Regions from separate parts of the Homo sapiens genome. Here all the other regions are linked to region 1. Evidence: fine-mapped expression QTL. A gene starts in region 1. Each other region holds a variant in brackets. All regions are shown on one strand. Distances are from middle to middle. Region 1 holds the start of ZNF606-AS1 (ZNF606 antisense RNA 1). Region 2 overlaps C19orf18 (chromosome 19 open reading frame 18). Region 3 has its middle 5.1 kb from the start of ZNF814.

The links. PIP is the estimated chance that this variant, and not a neighbour inherited with it, causes the effect.
Region 2: its variant is the best candidate, but not a certain one, in a credible set for the expression of ZNF606-AS1 in lung (TOPMed, PIP 0.66).
Region 3: its variant is the best candidate, but not a certain one, in a credible set for the expression of ZNF606-AS1 in minor salivary gland (GTEx, PIP 0.78).

What each region holds. Positions count from the first base shown.
Region 1 is chr19:58,000,420-58,005,791 of GRCh38, forward strand. ZNF606-AS1 (ZNF606 antisense RNA 1) reads left to right here and starts at 2,475. Exons shown (of 4, transcript NR_036508.1): 1 at 2,475-2,627; 2 at 2,792-2,917; 3 at 3,964-4,281. It overlaps ZNF606 (zinc finger protein 606), which reads right to left and starts at 2,401. Exons shown (of 7, transcript NM_001348022.3): 1 at 1,977-2,401; 2 at 870-951; 3 at 264-320. The coding sequence starts at 900. RefSeq lists an enhancer at 2,333-2,752.
Region 2 is chr19:57,960,978-57,966,768 of GRCh38, forward strand. It overlaps C19orf18 (chromosome 19 open reading frame 18), which reads right to left. Exons shown (of 6, transcript NM_152474.5): 4 at 5,553-5,655; 5 at 414-574. Among named protein-coding and RNA genes, the nearest start is that of C19orf18, 11 kb to the right of the region's middle. The variant T/C (reference allele first, on the strand shown) is at 2,528.
Region 3 is chr19:57,891,247-57,897,037 of GRCh38, forward strand. It overlaps a transcript of ZNF814 not described here. Among named protein-coding and RNA genes, the nearest start is that of ZNF814, 5.1 kb to the left of the region's middle. The variant C/T (reference allele first, on the strand shown) is at 3,338.

The DNA.
Region 1 (5,372 bases):
TTTCACCGTGTTAGCCAGGATGGTCTCGATCTCCTGACCTCGTGATCCACTCGCCTCGGCCTCCCAAAGTGCTGTAGGCGTGAGTCACCACGCCTGGCCACTAGTTTTCTGATTCCTCCTTGTTCCAGCTCTGCACAGAGACAGATCTGGACCACCTGCCCTAAAGCCCCACCTGGTCCCCATTCTATTCCCCAGCTGTGGCAGAGCACTACAGCCAGAGGCCACAATATGGCAGCCCACAGCTGACCAGGCTCTTGACTCACCCCAGGAGGCCCATGGGTCAACAGCTGTCATCCCCCAAGATTGGTCCGTAAGGGCACCTGCACAGAAGGATCAGGTTAGGACTGTGACACCAAACCTAGTGATTCAAGGCGACAAAATACAAGAGGAGGCTGACTCGCTAATGGGCACTACAAAATTCCATAAACAGAGCCCAAGGGTGTGTAAAAAAAATGCAACATAAGCTGGATTCACACAGGCAATGCACAGGTGAGTCACTATTAATTAACACCGTTTTAAAATTACCAACCAATGCTATATAAGTAAAAACAATAAAGGTAAAAATATATATGAGAGCAGTAGAGACAATATTTTATTATATGTATCACTGTTGTTTAGGAAACCCCACAAACCACCAGAAAAATCCCTTAAAACTAATGACACCTCTCAGGAGATGACTATAAAACATAAAAGTTAGTGTCTTTTATGCCAACAATTTTCCTCCTTTACCACCAATCAGTTCTAATTTTGTACCAAGATAGACAGACCCCCTTCCATCCTCAAAAGTCCTCAGCCCATCACCAGCTCTGACCCATGACTGCAGCAGCTAATGATAGGGGAGGCCCAGGAGAAACACAACTTGGACTCACCCCAGGAGGCCCACGGGTTGATGGCTGCCATCCCGAGGACTGATTGACCAGGCACCTGCCCAGGAACACAGCAAATCCCAACCTAGTGACAAAAGTGAAAAAAGACAAAACTAGTCCTTTCTCACAGAAGACCAAGTGGGAACAAAGAAGGGAATCCATCCACCGAAGCAACAAAAAAACTTGTAAGGAGCATCGTAAGAAAAGAGAATTTACATGTCAAAAAAGTAACACAATTCCTGGAGAGAAATGAAAGGTAATTTGCATAAGCTGGAAAAAAGAGCATGATCCTGAATGAGAGGGTACAAATTTGTCAGCTATTCCCAAGAGACAGCCAGTCACAACACAGATGGAACTTTTGGATTAATCTGACAATTATTGTAAAATCAACTTGCAATCCTCATATATTAGTGGTTGCCTAGAGCTGGGGGAAAAATGAAATGGGGAGTGACTGCTTAAGGGGAACAAGGGTTTCTTTGTGGGGTGATGAAATGTTCTAAAATTAGATAATGGGGATGATTGCACAACTTTATTAATATACAATAAAACCGGTGAATTGCACACTTTTAAGTGCTTAAAGTGAACATTATGTTATGCAAATTTAATCCCACCTCCAAAAAAAATTCACCTCCAAGATTTACTAAGCCTAAGCTTGTGTGTGTGTGGAGGACTTAGAGATGGGCCTGGCGCCCAGACCCCTAACTCCTCAGGTTCCAGATCTTTGTACAAGTCAGCAACCTCTCGAATGGATTCCTGGGTATGTGTATAAAGCACTAGAACACACAGTGGGCCTCAGGAGCACCGGAATCAGCGCGAAAACGCAGAATGCAAACCGTACTTTGCACCATTATTTGCAACTTGACAGTGACCGCCGCCGTCACTGCATGTTTAAGGGAACCCGGAGCTGTTTCCAACCCAGGTCTGACGTCCTTCACAGTGCTTTGTGTGAACTGGCAGGGGGAGAAACGACGGCTGGGGAACGAACGGGGTTATTCGTCCCATCAATGGCCTCAGAAGCATCCTTATCACCTGCTTCCAGAGCTCCCGACCCAAATTTCCTCCTCAAGACCGACGCGGCCGCGACGCTGCAAAAGCTCGTCCCGGCCTCACCTGGCTCGCGGCCGGCGGTCCCCCTTGAAGGCGGCGCAGCAGGATCGGGGTCTGCCCGCCTGGGGCGTTTGGCTTTTGTCCCGCGCCGAGGTCCGGCCCAGGAGTGCGCTTGGGAGCTCCCGGCGCGGCCTCGGGGACAAAGGCCCGCGGAGCCGACGTGCAGCAGAGTTCACCCAGGCCCGTCCGACCAGAAAACGAAGAACGCCCGGAGGCGGGAGGCCGGAGGCAGGCTGCTGGCTGGAGAACCGACGGCAACGACGGCGCAAAGCCGGCGCGGAAAGGGCAGGCGCAGGACCCACCCTGACGCCGCCTCTCCCAGCCGGCTCTCCTGACCCCCCAAGCCCCGCAGCTACGGCGGCCCCACAGCCTGAGCAAAGGCCTCACCTCAGCCGCGGACAATGGCGGCTGCTTCCCCGGCGTCGACCGGAGCGCGCCGCGGGGTCTGCTGGGAGCTGTAGTTCCAGGCGGGCACTTCCGGCGTCGGGCAGCGGCGCCGCCATGACAGGTTCCTGGGCCGCGCCGCCTCGCCCTGCCTGGGCGGGGTTGGGACCTTTCTGGCACCTGCGTCGAAGCCGGCGGCAGGATGGACTTTGTTGTCCCGGTCCCAGACCACCCTCCTCCACCGTCGCCTCCCACTGCAAAAAGGCCTGGGTAAGTCGCGGCCCCGCGGGCCTCGGTTTGCCCATCCGCAAAATGGCGCCTCGTGGTACCGGGTTTCCCGGGAGGAGCTCGGCGAGTTCTCAGCGCTCTCGAGGGATCCTTCCATTTGGCGTTCGCAAGATTGTGAGAAAGTGACTGCTGTTATTCTCTTTAAGATAAGGAACCTAATTCGAGCTACCCTTCTCTGTGAAGCTCGACGGCTGAGAACGTCAGGGCTCGTTCCCAAGTCTCTTTCCAGAGGCCAGGCTTTATGGGAGCATGGGTTACCAGCGACGCACCCTGTGAGTTTTCCTCTATCGATATGCATGGAGCGGTTCGGGAGCGGTGGCTCATTCCTGTAGTCCCAGCACTTCGGGAAGCTGTGGCGGGAGGATCAGTTGAGTTCAGGAGTTCGACACCACCCTGGGCAACATAGCGAGACCACATCTCTACAAAAAAAATACAAAAATTAGCCCGGTGTGATGGCGCGCGCCTGTAGTCCCCGCTACTTAGGAGGTTGCGGTGGAAGGATTGCTTGAGCCTGGGAGGTCAAGGTTGCAGTGAGCTATGATCGCACCACTGCACTTCAGCCTGGGCAACAGAGCAAGACCCGGCATTAAAACAAACAAAAACGGGCCGGGCGCGGTGGCTCACAGCTGTAATCCCAGCACTTTGGGAGGCCAAGGCAGGTGGATCGCCTGAGGTCAGGAGTTCCGAGACCAGTCTGGGCAACATGATAAAACCTCGTCTCTACTAAAAATACCAAAAATTAGCCGGGCTTGGTGGAGGGCACCTGTACCCAGCTACTTGGGAGGCTGAGGCAGGAGAATCGCTTGAACCCGGGAAGCGGAGGCTACAGTAAGCCGAGATCAAGCCATTGCACTCCAGCCTGGGCAGCAGGGCAAGACTCTGTCTCAAAAAAAGGGACTGAGGGACTGTAGGTGGTGATACCAAAGAAAGCATGGCCATTTAGGAAGCTAGACTTGAGTGAGCAGTGGGCAAGAGAGATTTTGAAGATATTTCCACTAGTAATGGAGGATCATTTTAAAAAGCTGGCCTGTGGGTTGGGCTTTTGTTGTTGGGTGGTGTTGGCACTCACTGTGGGTGGGCAAAGGGGAGTAGCCCTTTCAGAGGGAGAGGAAAAGTTCAAGTAGGACAGGCTGAATTCAAGGGAGAGGAAAATTTCAAGTAGGACAGGCTGAATTCGAGGGAGAGGACCATGAGAGAGGTAAGGTGGAAGGGGCAAGGTGTTGGGACAGGCCCCAGCTGGCAGGAAGGTGAACCCAGTCAGAGTGGGCACTGAGAGGAAAGCAATCTATGGATGGTACAGCCACAATTTCCATCTCAGGATCAAGCAGAGAAAGAGAGGCTGGAGAAGGAAGAGTGACAGAAGTAAGAAGAGAGTGTCTCTCCACTTCCACTCCAGCCCCCTACAGCTCATCCTCCAGCAGGCAGCCAAGGGCACTTTTAGGATCTCACATCAGGTCCTTGCCTCACATTCTGCACTGGCTTCCCAAGTAATTAAAGTAAAATCCAAATTCCAGCTCACAGCTTAGAAAACTCAGCAGGACTGGCCTCTGTCCTATCCCACACCCCACCTCAGTCCCTCAAGCTCATCTCCTGTCATTCCTGCCCATTTCTGGACCCCAGCCACTCCTCAAACAGGGTAAGTCCATTCCTGCTTCAGGGCCTTTGTACGTATTGTTTCCTCTTCCTGGAATCTTCTTCCTTGTACAGCCCCAGGGTTTTCTTTTTTTCATCCAGATCACAGCACAGATGTCACATCCTGGTAACAGCCAGCTGTGACTCATCTCCCTAATTCTCAATTGTATTACTCTCTTTTTATTTTCTTCGTATCGTAACTGATAGTCTCATACAGTACAGAAGCCAAGTTTTAAGATATGCAATCACCAAATACCTGCTACACAAACCTCAATGTTCATATAAAATAAGACTAGAATTCATATTCTAAAGAGAGATGAGGTAGCTCTGTTCACTTTTGAGAGGGAACTCAAATGAGAGAGATACCTTTGACCTAAAGGTGTCAGGAAACCAGATGAAGAAAAACACCCCTGCTATGATTTGAATGTTTTTATCCTCTCCAAAATTCATGTTGAAACTTACTCCCCAGTGCAGTAGTGTTGGGAGGCAGGGTCTAATGGGATTTATGGAGGTCATAAGGCTCTGCTGTCATGAATGGATTAATGTTGTAAACCAAAAAATAAAATTCTAAGCCCCCCACCCCCCAACCATATGAATAGACCCCTCCTCTCAGCCAAGGGCATTCCAAAGTTAATTTGAAAAATGAGTTCGGGCCATGATGGGAAGCAGAAGCTGGACTTGCCTCATTATACCCTCCTCCCTTCTAGAATTAGTGATAGAACAGACTCTTTAAGTCTGATAAGAAACATTTACAGTCTGTTATCTCCGGAGGTTTCATCTGCTTGGTAAAACCTTGAGTTCCACAACCCCAGACATTCCTTTCTATTGACAATAACTCTTTAAATCAATTGGCAATCAGAAATCTTTAAATCTGCCTATAACCTGGAAACTTTCTGTACCAGTATACATCTTATATGTATTGATTGATGTCTCATGTCTCCCTAAGATGTATAAAAGCAAGCTGAACCCTAACCACCCTGGGCATGTCCTCAGGATCTCCTGAGAGCTGCGTCAGGGGCCACTGGTCACCATATTTGGCTCAGAGTAAATCTCTTCAAATATTTTACAGAGTTTGACTCTTCGTCAACAATGCCA
Region 2 (5,791 bases), 39 kb before region 1:
GACCATCCTGGCACCCGAGCGTTGGTGGTATAGTGGTGAGCATAGCTGCCTTCCGAGACCATCCTGGCTAAAATGGTGAAACCCCGTCTCTACTAAAAATACAAAAAATTAGCCGGGCATGGTGGCGGGCGCCTGTACTCCCAGCTACTCGGGAGGCTGAGGCAGGAGAATGGCGTGAATCTGGGAGGCGGAGCTTGCAGTGAGCAGAGATCGCGCCACTGCACTCCAGCCTGGGCTACAGAGTAAGAGTCCGTCTTAAAAAAAAAATGAAAGAAAGAAAGGAAGGAAGAAAGAAAGAAAGGAAAGAAAGAAAGAAAAGAAATGCAAGCCACCGCTGAGAAAGAAAGAAAAGAAACGCAAGCTGCCGCTGCCAGCTTGGCTTTCCTGCGAATAGCTCTTACAGGTCACACTACCTGAGTGGATGAACTTTTCCAGCTCATTTTCGTTCTCTGGAAGTAGGTGCGTGGACTCACCCTCGTCCTCTGAGCCCTCTTCTTCATCTCCTAATAACGGTATCCTGAGGTTCTTATAAAGTGACTCGAGCTGTTGTCTTTCCTCAGCCTGTGCCAGTCGACTGGAGAATGATATAAATGAATTTAGAAGCACAGTTTTCATGATGAATAATTCATTTCTCAACCATGCCACTTTTTGACAGGAAAGGAGTCGCTTGTGGAGTGGGTGCAGACATAAGACTTTGAAACCAGACTAATCATGGTCAGCTCTCAACTGTCTACATGGTCAGGCCATTTCCTGGAGTAAGGAGTAACTCCGATCATCCCAAAGCATGGATCAAAGCCAGGACTAGACGTGAACAAGGCACTCACATTGGGTTCCAAACTTAAGGTGTTGACAAAAAATCCATAATCAAACAAATCATCTTTCTTTCCATTCCTTTCTCTTCTCTTTTTCTTTCTCTTTTTTTTCCTTTTTCTTTCTTCTTTCCTCTCTTTCCTTCCTCCCTCCCTTCTTTTCTTTCCTTTTTCTTTCCCTTTCTCTCTCTCTCTCCCTTTCTCTTTCCCTTTCTCTCTCTGTATCTCTCCCTTTCTCTTTCTCTCTCTCTTTCTCTCTTTGGAACAGGGTCTCATTCTGTCACCCAGGCTAGAAGTGAACTGATACAATCATGGTTCACTGCAGCTGCCAACTCCTGGGTTCAAACAGTCTTACCTGCTCAGCCTCCTAAGTAGCTGGGACCACAGGCTCGTGGCACCATGCCCGGCTAATTATTTTTGTATTTTTTTTTTTAGAAATTGCGTCTTGCTATGTTGCCCAGGATGGTCTCAAACTCCTAGGCTCAAGCTGTCTTTCCTCCTTGGCCTCCCAAAACACTGGAATTACAGGTGTGAGCCACTGTGCCCGGCCATAATCATGTTTCAGTGTAATATTTTACAAAATAAAAATTAATGTCAAGAAATCCGTGATGAACAAAATAGGACAGAATGGGTGTTACTGATTTTTCTACCTCACTGTAGGTCCAATCCTGGAAGTGGATCACTGAACAGCTATTTCTGTTTGGTGTGGAAATGGATGACAGTGTTTTCCTAACATACTTACCTTCCCAGTACTGTGTGAATTATATATTAAAAAAATACTTTTAGGGGCCAGGCGCGGTGGCTCACGCCAGTAATCCCAGCACTTTGGTAGGCCGAGGCGGGCAGATTACCTGAGGTCAGGAGTTGGAGGCCAGCCTGACCAACATGGAGAAACCCCGTCTGTACTAAAAAAATACAAAATTAGCAGGGCGTGGTGGCACATGCTTGTAATCCCAGCTACTTGGGAGGCTGAGGCAGGAGAATCACTTGAACCTGGGAGGCGGAGGTTGCAATGAGCTGAGATGGTGCCATTGCACTCCAGCCTGGCCAACAAGAGTGAAACTCCATCTCAAAAAAAAAAACAAAAAACTTTTAGGGTTAGTTTATTTTTTGTTTTTCTTGCTCAAAAGGCTGGGACAGGAGCAAGATTTGAGTGACAAAAGGGAGGTGCTCGCCTCAGTGCGAAATGTAAGGAGGTACCCCAAACAGTGAAAAATGAAGATGAGTATTTTAACTCAATTTTTTTTTTTTTTTTTGCAGATGGAGTTTCACTCTTTTTGCCCAGGCTGGAGTGCAATGGCGCGATCTTGGCTCACCACAACCTCCACCTCCCAGGTTCAAGTGATTCTCCTGTCTCAGCCTCCCGAGTAGCTGGGATTACAGGCATGTGCCACCATGCCTGGCTAATTTTTTTGTATTTTTAGTACAGATGGGGTTTCTCCATGTTGGTCAGGCTGGTCTCGAACTCCCAACCTCAGGTGACCCGCCCACCTCGGCCTCCCAAAGTGCTGGGATTACAGGCGTGAGCCACCGCGCCCGGTCCTTAACTCAGTATTTTTAAAAATTGAAATGAAGCAAAAAAAACAAAATCCAGGATATACCAAATATCAAGATTGTAAACAGAGATAGGATCCAAACAGTGCTGTGCTAAACCACAGGGGAGCTTGAGTCAAAAGGAAAGGTGTGAGTCCCTATACACGTTTTAATGTATTTTTAAA[T/C]GCTTATTCTTTTCCAAAACACTTAAGAAGTTCAGAATATATTTAATAATTGAAAACTGGTGTATGAAAAGTCACAACATTAAGTTTAAATATTTTATCTAGGCCAAGCACAGTGGCTCACGCCTGTAATCCCAGCACTTTGGGAGTCCGAGGCGGGCGGATCACGAGGTCAGGAGATTGAGACCATCCTGGGTAACATGGTGAAACCCCGTCTCTAATAAAAATACAAAAAAAAATTAGCCGGGCGTGGTGGCGGGTGCCTGTAGTCCCAGCTACTTGGGAGGCTGAGGCAGGAGAATGGCGTGAACCTGGGAGGCGGGGCTTGCAGTGAGCTGAGATGACGCCACTGCACTCCAGCCTGGGCAACAGAGCAAGACTCCGTCTCTAAAAAAATAAAAATAAAAATAAATATTTTATCTCTACCCTAAACAAAATTAATTGTAATTTTACTTTCCTGGTTTAAATAAAAGCAAACTTACCAATAGTATTTTCAAAATCTACTTCTGGAAAAAATGAACCACTAAAAATTACATAAAACTTGTACTTTTGAACAGGTGGTTTTGTTTTTTTTGTTTGTTTTCGTTTTGGTTTTGGTTTTGGCCCCAGGCTCCACTATAGCTTAGTGCTAATACAAATGTGAAAACAATAAGAATTGACTAGCTCAGCAACTCAATTCAACACTGAGTGTCCAGGAGATATGTTTTACTGAGTTGCATTACAAAACTTTATATTTATTAATAGTTTTGTTATAATAATGAAATATACAGAAGCTACAGTTACATAATTTTTGTTTTTGAGACATGGTCTCACTCTGTCGCCCAGGAGGAAGTGCAGTGGTGCAATCTCAGCTCACTACAACTTCCACCTCCAGGGCTCAAGCCATCCTCCCACCTCAGCCTCTTGAGTAGCTGGGACTACAGGTGCGTGCTACCACACCTGGCTAATTTTTGTATTTTTTGTATAGACGCGGTTTCACCATGTTGCCCACGCTGGTCTCAAACACCTGAGCTTAAGGGATCCACCCGCCTCGGCCTCCCAAAGTGTTGGGATCACAAGTGTGAGCCAATGCCCCCGGCCTATACATTTACATAAATTAAGCGGATGTAGTGGAGATAACCCACAACCAAGCACGCAGGTTACGCTCTCATTAGCAAAATTCCCCTTTTACCTTTAATGTCACTTTGCCTTCATGTGACCTACTCCAAGGTGGTCTTAACATAGCTGCCTCAGAAAATATCTCACACATGGCAATATATCTTGTTTTCACACTTAATTCAACGAAGCAAGCAATTTTGTACTTCTCAAGCTGTTTCTGGTGGGATACAATGGAATCCTAGCACGGAATCATACAGTAGGAGTCAGAATCTGTTGGTTTGGTCAGAACCGCATGAGATCACAGTGTGTCTCACCTTTTTCTACCGTGAATTTCAAAATGATTACATCACTCAAAACAGCTTGACCCCAAGCTTTATTTGCGAAGACGGTGATGTAACTTCCCCCAAAGCTGCTATCACCCCAGACTGCACTGACACATTTCTAGTGAAAGGGAGAGTGGTCGCTCTTTTCTGCTGTGCACTATTGAGATTCCTTCCAGAGTAGCAAGTTCTTTTTATTTTATTTATTTATTTATTTATTTATTTATTATTTGCGACAGAGTTTTGCTCTTGTCGCCCAGGCTGAATTGCAATGGCGTGATCTCTGCCCACTGCAACCTCTGCCTCCCAGGTTCAAGCAATTTTCCTGCCCCAGCCTCCCAAGTAGCTGGGATTACAGGTGCCCACCACTACGCCCAGCTAATTTTTGTATTTTTAGCAGAGACGGGGTTTCACTATATTGGCCAGGCTAGTCTTGAACTCCTGACCTCAGGTGATGTACCCGCCTCAGCCTCCCAGAGTGCTGGGATTACAGGCATGAGCCACCACACCCGGCCTCAAGTTTATTTTAAAATACCAAATTCTGGGGTCTGGGAATGGTGGCTCACACCTTTAATCCCAGCACTGGGAGGCCAAGGTAGGCGGATCACCTGAGGTCTGGAGTTCGAGACCAGCCTGACCAACATGGAGAAACCCCATCACTACTAAAAATACAAAATTAGCCTGGCATGGTGGCGTATGCCTGCAGTAATCCCAGCTACTTGGGAGGCTGAGGCAGGAGAATTGCTTGAACCCAGGAGGCAGAGGTTGCAGTGAACCAAGATCCATACCATTACACTCTAGCCTGGGCAACAAGAGCGAAACTCCGTCCCCTCCCCTCCAAAAAAAGTAGAAAAAATAAAATAAAATAAAATACTGAATTTTGGGAGGATGCTAGCATCTCAAACTGTGTCTTTCAAGCATTTTTGATCATGACTCCCAGTAAGAAATATATTTTATTTCACAACCGTGTGTCTGTGTGTGTGTGCATGTCTCACATGTATCTGAAAAGTTTAAAAATCAGCCTTTTACATTAATACTTTAAGTAATATTTTCTTTTCTTTTTCTTTTTTTTTTTTTCAGACGAGTCTCACTCTGTCACTCAGGCTGGAGTGCAGTGGCACGATCTCGGCTCACTGCAAGCTCCGCCTCCCGGGTTCACACCATTCTCCTGCCTCAGCCTCCCGAGGAGCCGGGACTACAGGCACCCGCCACCACGCCCGGCTAATTTTTTGTATTTTTAGTAGATACGGGGTTTCACCGTGTTAGCCAGGATGGTCTCGATCTCCTGACCTCATGATCCACCCGCCTCGGCCTTCCAAAGTGCTGGGATTACAAGCGTGAGCCACCATGCCCGGCGTAATATTTTCTAATATTTTCTATTCTGCTGAATTGTATTCTGTCCTGTGTCTTTCTTTCTTTTTTTTTCATGTGTATCATGCCTCAACATGAGTACAATCCACATGTTGAAAAACACTAATCTGGAAATTTATAATGACCAATACTTTAGCAATTATAAGATGTATCATCATCATCCTTTGACATTAAATAATAATCAGTTGACTTGTTATGTCTCATTTAAGGACAGCAGATATTACTTAGCAGATACTTACTATATCATATAGGAGATTGCCATCCCACATATCAGGGCAATGCTGAAGGCTACGCTCGAAATTAAAATTACTTTAACAAGAGCAGGTCTATGCCGAATTATTGCTAAAAAGAAAGAAAAGAAAAGAAGTGCTCAAAAATGTTCATTTTAGCTATGTCTTTCAGTTAATATATTTGTCCTTACAGAGGGGAATGGAAGTCAAAACCAGAAACACTTTCAAAAATAGCTTGTTTTGTTTTT
Region 3 (5,791 bases), 110 kb before region 1:
CAGGCGCGGTGGCTCACGCCTGTAATCCCAGCACTTTGGGAGGCTGAGGTGGGTGGATCACAAGGTCAGGAGATCGAGACCATCCTGGCTAACACGGTGAAATCCTGTCTCTACTAAAAATACAAAAAATTAGCTGGGCGTGGTGGCGGGTGCCTGTAGTCCCAGCTACTTGGGAGGCTGAGGTAGGGGAACGGCGTGAACCCGGGAGGTGGAGCTTGCAGTGAGCCGAGATTGCACCACTGCACTCCAGCCTGGGTGACAGAGTGAGACTCCGCCTCAAAAAAAAAAAAAAATCAAGAAATAACCATAAAAATGGGCAGCCATGCCAGGCATGGTGGCTCACCCCTGGAATCCCAGCACTTTGGGAGACCAAGGTGGGAGGATCATGAGATCAGGAGATGGAGACCATCCTGGCTAACAACAGGGTGAAACCCAATCTCTACTAAAAATACGAAAAAATTAGCCGGGCGGCTCTGTCTATGGAGTACCCACTCTTTTATTCCTTTACTTTCTTTTCTTTTTTTTGAGCAGGAGTTTTGCTCTGTCACCCAGGCTGGAGTGCAGTGGCATGATCTCAGCTCACTGCAACCTCCACCTCCTGGGTTCGAGCAATTCTTCTGCCTCAGCATCCTGAGTACCTGGGACTACAGGTGCGCACCACTATGCCCGGCTAACTTTTGTATTTTTAGTATAAACACGGTTTCACTATGTTGGCCAGGCTGGTTTCAAGCTCCCAACCTTGTGATCTGCCCACCTCAGCCTCCCAAAGTGTTGGGATTACAGGCGTGAGCCACTGCACCCGGCCCAGACCAATGTATTTCTTTAATGTATTTGATTGATGTCTCTTGCCTCCTTAAAATGTATAAAACCAAGCTGCGCCCTGACCACCCTGGGCACATGTTCTCAGGACCTCTTGAGGGCTGTGTCACAGGCCATGGTCACTCATATTTGGCTCAGAATAAATCTCTTCACATAGTCTACAGAGTTTGACTCTTTTCATTGACACTGAAGAAACCCCCAACCCAGAGGAAAATCATCTGTGTGCACCACTTGGCTCACTTTGAGTGAGTGGGGTGCATATACCCAGATAAAGAATGAGATTGGTTTACAGGCCCAACTTGGTGGAGTTAGAGTCTCTCCTGGTTAAAGGCTCCTCTCAATAAAAGGCAAGGACACTTGACCAAACTTTGGTTCAATGCCCAAATTAGGAAGATTAGATTACTTCCTAAGAGTTAGGGGGTTAGAGGCCCCTCTCAGTAAAGTCCCTCTTGGCTAGGAATGGGTTTGGCACAATGGGCTGTTAACTGCTGTTCTCTTTGGAATAATCTGCCTTGCTGATGGCTATGGGTGACAGGACTAGGAATGTACAGGATCATGGGACATGGGGAGCTTTTTCCTCCCCAAAAGGGAAAACTTGCGAGCTGATGGGACTGCTGGAAAAGATCCCCTTGCTACTGACAAGCAGCCACCTGAACTTTTCAGTGTCACTGCAATGGGAGTGGGGGGGGCTTCTCTGGCCTCTCTAAGCTCCTGGCCTTCCCCACCCTGCCACAGGCAATGTTTTTCTCTGTCTCCTTTCCCTTTCTTATCTTTTCTGTTATTCAGGGTGACCATCTTGCCCAGAGACCAAGTTGAAACTCATGGTCGGAGGTTGGATTAAAGATGATGGGGCCCAACCAGGGCAAGTTTGAGCCTTGCCTGTTAGATATTCCAGGCGGAGCCGAGTGGCTAATGTGTATGTTTTGTCACACGTATTTTGCTCTGGCCAGAATGGAAAAAGATAATTTAGCTTTGTATTGCAGATTGGCCCCCAAGGGTGTGGTGCAGCCAGCTGGGTCACTAGAGGCTCTCAGGGAAAGGCAAACCAGAAGCCTGGAATGCTGGAATGCCAGCAAAAGGGTAAGAATTTCTTTTTTGTTATTGATTTTTTTTTTTTTTTTTTTTGGAGACGGAGTCTTGCACTGTCGCCCAGGCTGGAGTGCAGTGGTGTGATTTCGGCTCACTGCAACCTCCGCCTCCTGGGTTCAAACGATTCTCTTGCCTCAGCCTCCTGAGTAGGTGGGATTACAGGCACGCACCACCATGCCTAGTTAATTTTTGTATTTTTACTACAGACAAGGTTTCACCATGTTGGCCAGGCTGGTCTCCAACTCTTGACTTCAGGTGATCTGCCCGCCTGGGCCCCCCAAAGTGCTGGAATTACAGGCATGAGCCACTGCACCCAGCAAGAATTTCCTACCAGTCAGTTGGCTGGGTGTGGTGGCTCACACCTGTAATCCCAGCACTTTGGGAGGCAGAGGCAGGTGGATCACCTGAGGTCAGGAGTTCGACAACAGCCTGACCAACATGGTGAAACAACATCTCTACTAAAAATACAAAAAATTAGTCATGGCCGGGTGCGGGGGCTCATGCCTGTAATCCCAGCTCTTTGGGAGGCCGAGGTGGGCAGATCACTTGAGGCCAGGAGTTCGAGACCAACCTGGCCAACATGGTAAAACCCCGTCTCTACTAAAAATTGAAAAAATAAGCCGGGTGTGGTGGTGCATGCATGTAATCCCAGCTACTCGGGAGGCTGAGGCAGGAGAATCACTTAAACCTGGGAGGTGGAGATTGTAGTGAGCTGAGATTGCACCATTGCACTCCAGCGTGGGTGGCAGAGAGAGACCCCATCTCAAAAAAAAAAAAAAATTAGTCGTGCATGTTGGTGTGCACCTGTAATCCCAGCTTCTCGGGAGGCTGAGGCAGGAAATCACTTGAACCCAGGAGGTGGAGGTTACAGTGAGCTGAGATGGTGCCACTGCACTCCAGCCTGGGTGACAGAGCGAGACTCTGTCTCGAAAAAAAAAAAAGTCCAGGTGCAGTGGCTCATGCCTGTAACCCCAGCACTTTGGGCTGAAGTGAGGGGATCACGAGGTTAAGAGCTCAAGACTATCCTGGCCAGCATGGTGAAACCCCGTCTCTACTAAAAATACAAAAATTAGCTGGACATGGTGGCTGTAGTCCCAGCTGCTCAGGAGGCTGAGGCTGGAGAATTGCTTGAACCCAGGAGGTGGGGGTTGCAGGGAGCTGAGATCATGCCACTGCACTCCAGCCTGGCAACAGAGTGAGACTCCATCTCAAAAAAAAAAAAAAGAAGCCGATTTGCCCAAATCAAAGAAAGAAAAGAAGTGGGTTTTCTTATTTTGTTTCATTTTGTTTTTAGTCTGTAAATGAAACAAAACAGCAAGGAGAAAAGTCCCCTGATTTGTATCCTAGTGCTTCTTGATCACACCTAGTTGGCATAGCTGCAAAAAGCATAGCCGGCTGGGTGCAGTGGCTCACACCTGTAATCCCAGCA[C/T]TTTGGGAGGCTGAGACGGGCAGATCACGAGGTCAGGAGATCCAGACCATCCTGGCTAACACGGTGAAACCCCGTCTCTACTAAAAATACAAAAAAAAAAATTAGCCGGGCGTGGTGGCGGGTGCCTGTAGTCCCAGCTACTTGGGAGGCTGAGGCAGGAGAATGGCATGAACCTGGGAGGTGGAGCTTGCAGTGAGCCGAGATTGCACCACTGCACTCTAGCCTGGGCAACAGAGCGAGACTCCGTCTCAGAAAAAAAAAAAAAAAATCATAGCCACATCTATCTAATCTTATTGCTCATAGCTGTTAAATACCAAACCTGAATACGCAATTTTAGAAACGGAGCCTTCAATGCTTTTTGTTCCCAATGTTTCACAAGCAAATGGATGGAAATCAGAAGGCACACAGGGGAAGAGTATAATAAAAGCCCTAAGACAAGTTAAATGAAGTCCCCTGAAAATGACAGTGAAGCAGAGCAACCAAGAGATTGATTCATACAGCAAAGAGGACAAGACAGATTAATGCAAAGTTGACATCCTGTGGTGCCAAACCAGTTCTTAGCCAAGAGGGACTTTACTGAGAGGGGCCTCTAACTCTTAGGAAGGACTAAATCTTAGGAAGGACTCTAACCTTCCTAAATTGGGCCTCAAACCCAGGGTCAGTCAAGCCTCCTTGCCTTTTCTTTTCTTTTCTTTCTTTTTTTTTTTTTTGAGATGAAGTCTCACTCTGTTGCCCAGGCTGGAGTGCAGTGGTGCGATCTCGGCTCACTGCAACCTCTGCCTCCTGGGTTGAAGCAATTCTCTTGCCTCAGCCTCCCTAGTAGCTGGGATTACAGGTGTGTGCCACCACACCTGGCTGATTTGTGTATTTTTAGTAGAGATGGGTTTTCACCATGTTGGCCAGGCTGGTCTCGAACTCCTGGTCTCAGGCAATCCGCCCGCCTCGGCCTCCCAAAGTGCTGAAATTACAGGTGTGAGTCACCGCACCTGGCCACGTCCTTGCCTTTTATTGAGAGGAAACTTTAACCCTCTCTGTCTTAGGAGAGACTCTAACTCCCTAAGCTGGGCCTCTAACCCAATCTCATCCTTTACCCAGGTGCCCCACCACTTACCCAAAGTCGGCCAATTAGTGCTGCAGCCTATTTCCTTTGGGCCGGTGGGTTTCTTCAGTATCATCCCTTCAAGGTTCACCAGAAAGATGTTACCAGAAAGGGCGTCCCAATTCAGACCCCAAGAGAGGGTTCTTTGGATCTCACACAAGAAAGAATTCAGGGTGAGTCCACAGTGCAAAGAAAAGTAAATTTGTTAAGAGAGTAAAGTGATGACAGAATAGCCACTCCATAGACAGAGCAGGCTCTTCCCGAAAGTCAGAGGAGGAATGCGTCCACCCTAGGTACTTGTTTATACATAGTGTCAGGAATAACGCTCAAAATTTTAAGGAAATTGAACACTCGAACAAACGATTTTTAGCAAAGAAATTTTACGTTTGCACAGAGGGGTGCCTCTTTGGCCAGTCGCCATGAGAGCGCACCTGAAAAAAGGGGCACGAGAGCCTTTGAGCGAGCCACTTTTGTGAGCGAGACTCCATCTCAAAAAAAAAAAAAAAAAAAGAATTGGCAGAGATTTTAAAAAGGCTTATAAAGAAGGAGCCAAAATTCCAGTTTCTGATTGGTTGGTGTGGGCATTGATAAAGGCTGCTCTTGAGCCATTTCAAACAGATCACGAGACAGATTCAGATGAGGAAGACAAGTGTGTAAAAAACTAACTTCAGATTCTGAATGCGAGGAGCAAAAACCAGAGGAAATTAAGAAAGGGAAACTGAAAAGGGTATGTTTTACTAACCCATCAGCTCCACCTGCTGAATTAAGTGAATGGCCACCTCCTTTCCCTCCCCATAATGGGCGAGAAAATGAATTAGCTGTAAAATTTACTGCTCCTGTAGTTGCAACATTAAAATCTGGAGCAATTGGTGGTGCTATACAAAATTCTATTCAAAAGGCTAGAGCTGAGGGAGACCTTGAAGCATGGCAATTTCCTGTTACTATCACCCAGCAAGGAGGGAAAAATATAGCTAGTTGGGCCACATTTTCTTTTAAGCTATTAATGGAATTTAAGCAAGCCATTAGTCAATATGGGCCAAATTCTCCTTTTGTACAAACTTTACTAAAAAATGTGGCTCTGAATAATAGATTGATAAAATATGACTGGGATACTTTAACAAAATCTGTTCTCACTCTATCTCAGTACTTACAGTTTAAAACCCGGTGGGCTGATGAAGCTCAAACTCAGGCAAGGGAAAAAACACAAGCACAGCCATCTGTGCCTGTTTCCTTTCAACAGTTAAAGGGAGTCAGTCCTAATTGGGGTCAATTAGAAAATCAAGCAGTAATGGAGAATGTTGCCATTGTTCAGTTATGCACTGTGTGCTTACGGGCATGTGACAGAATAAATGTTA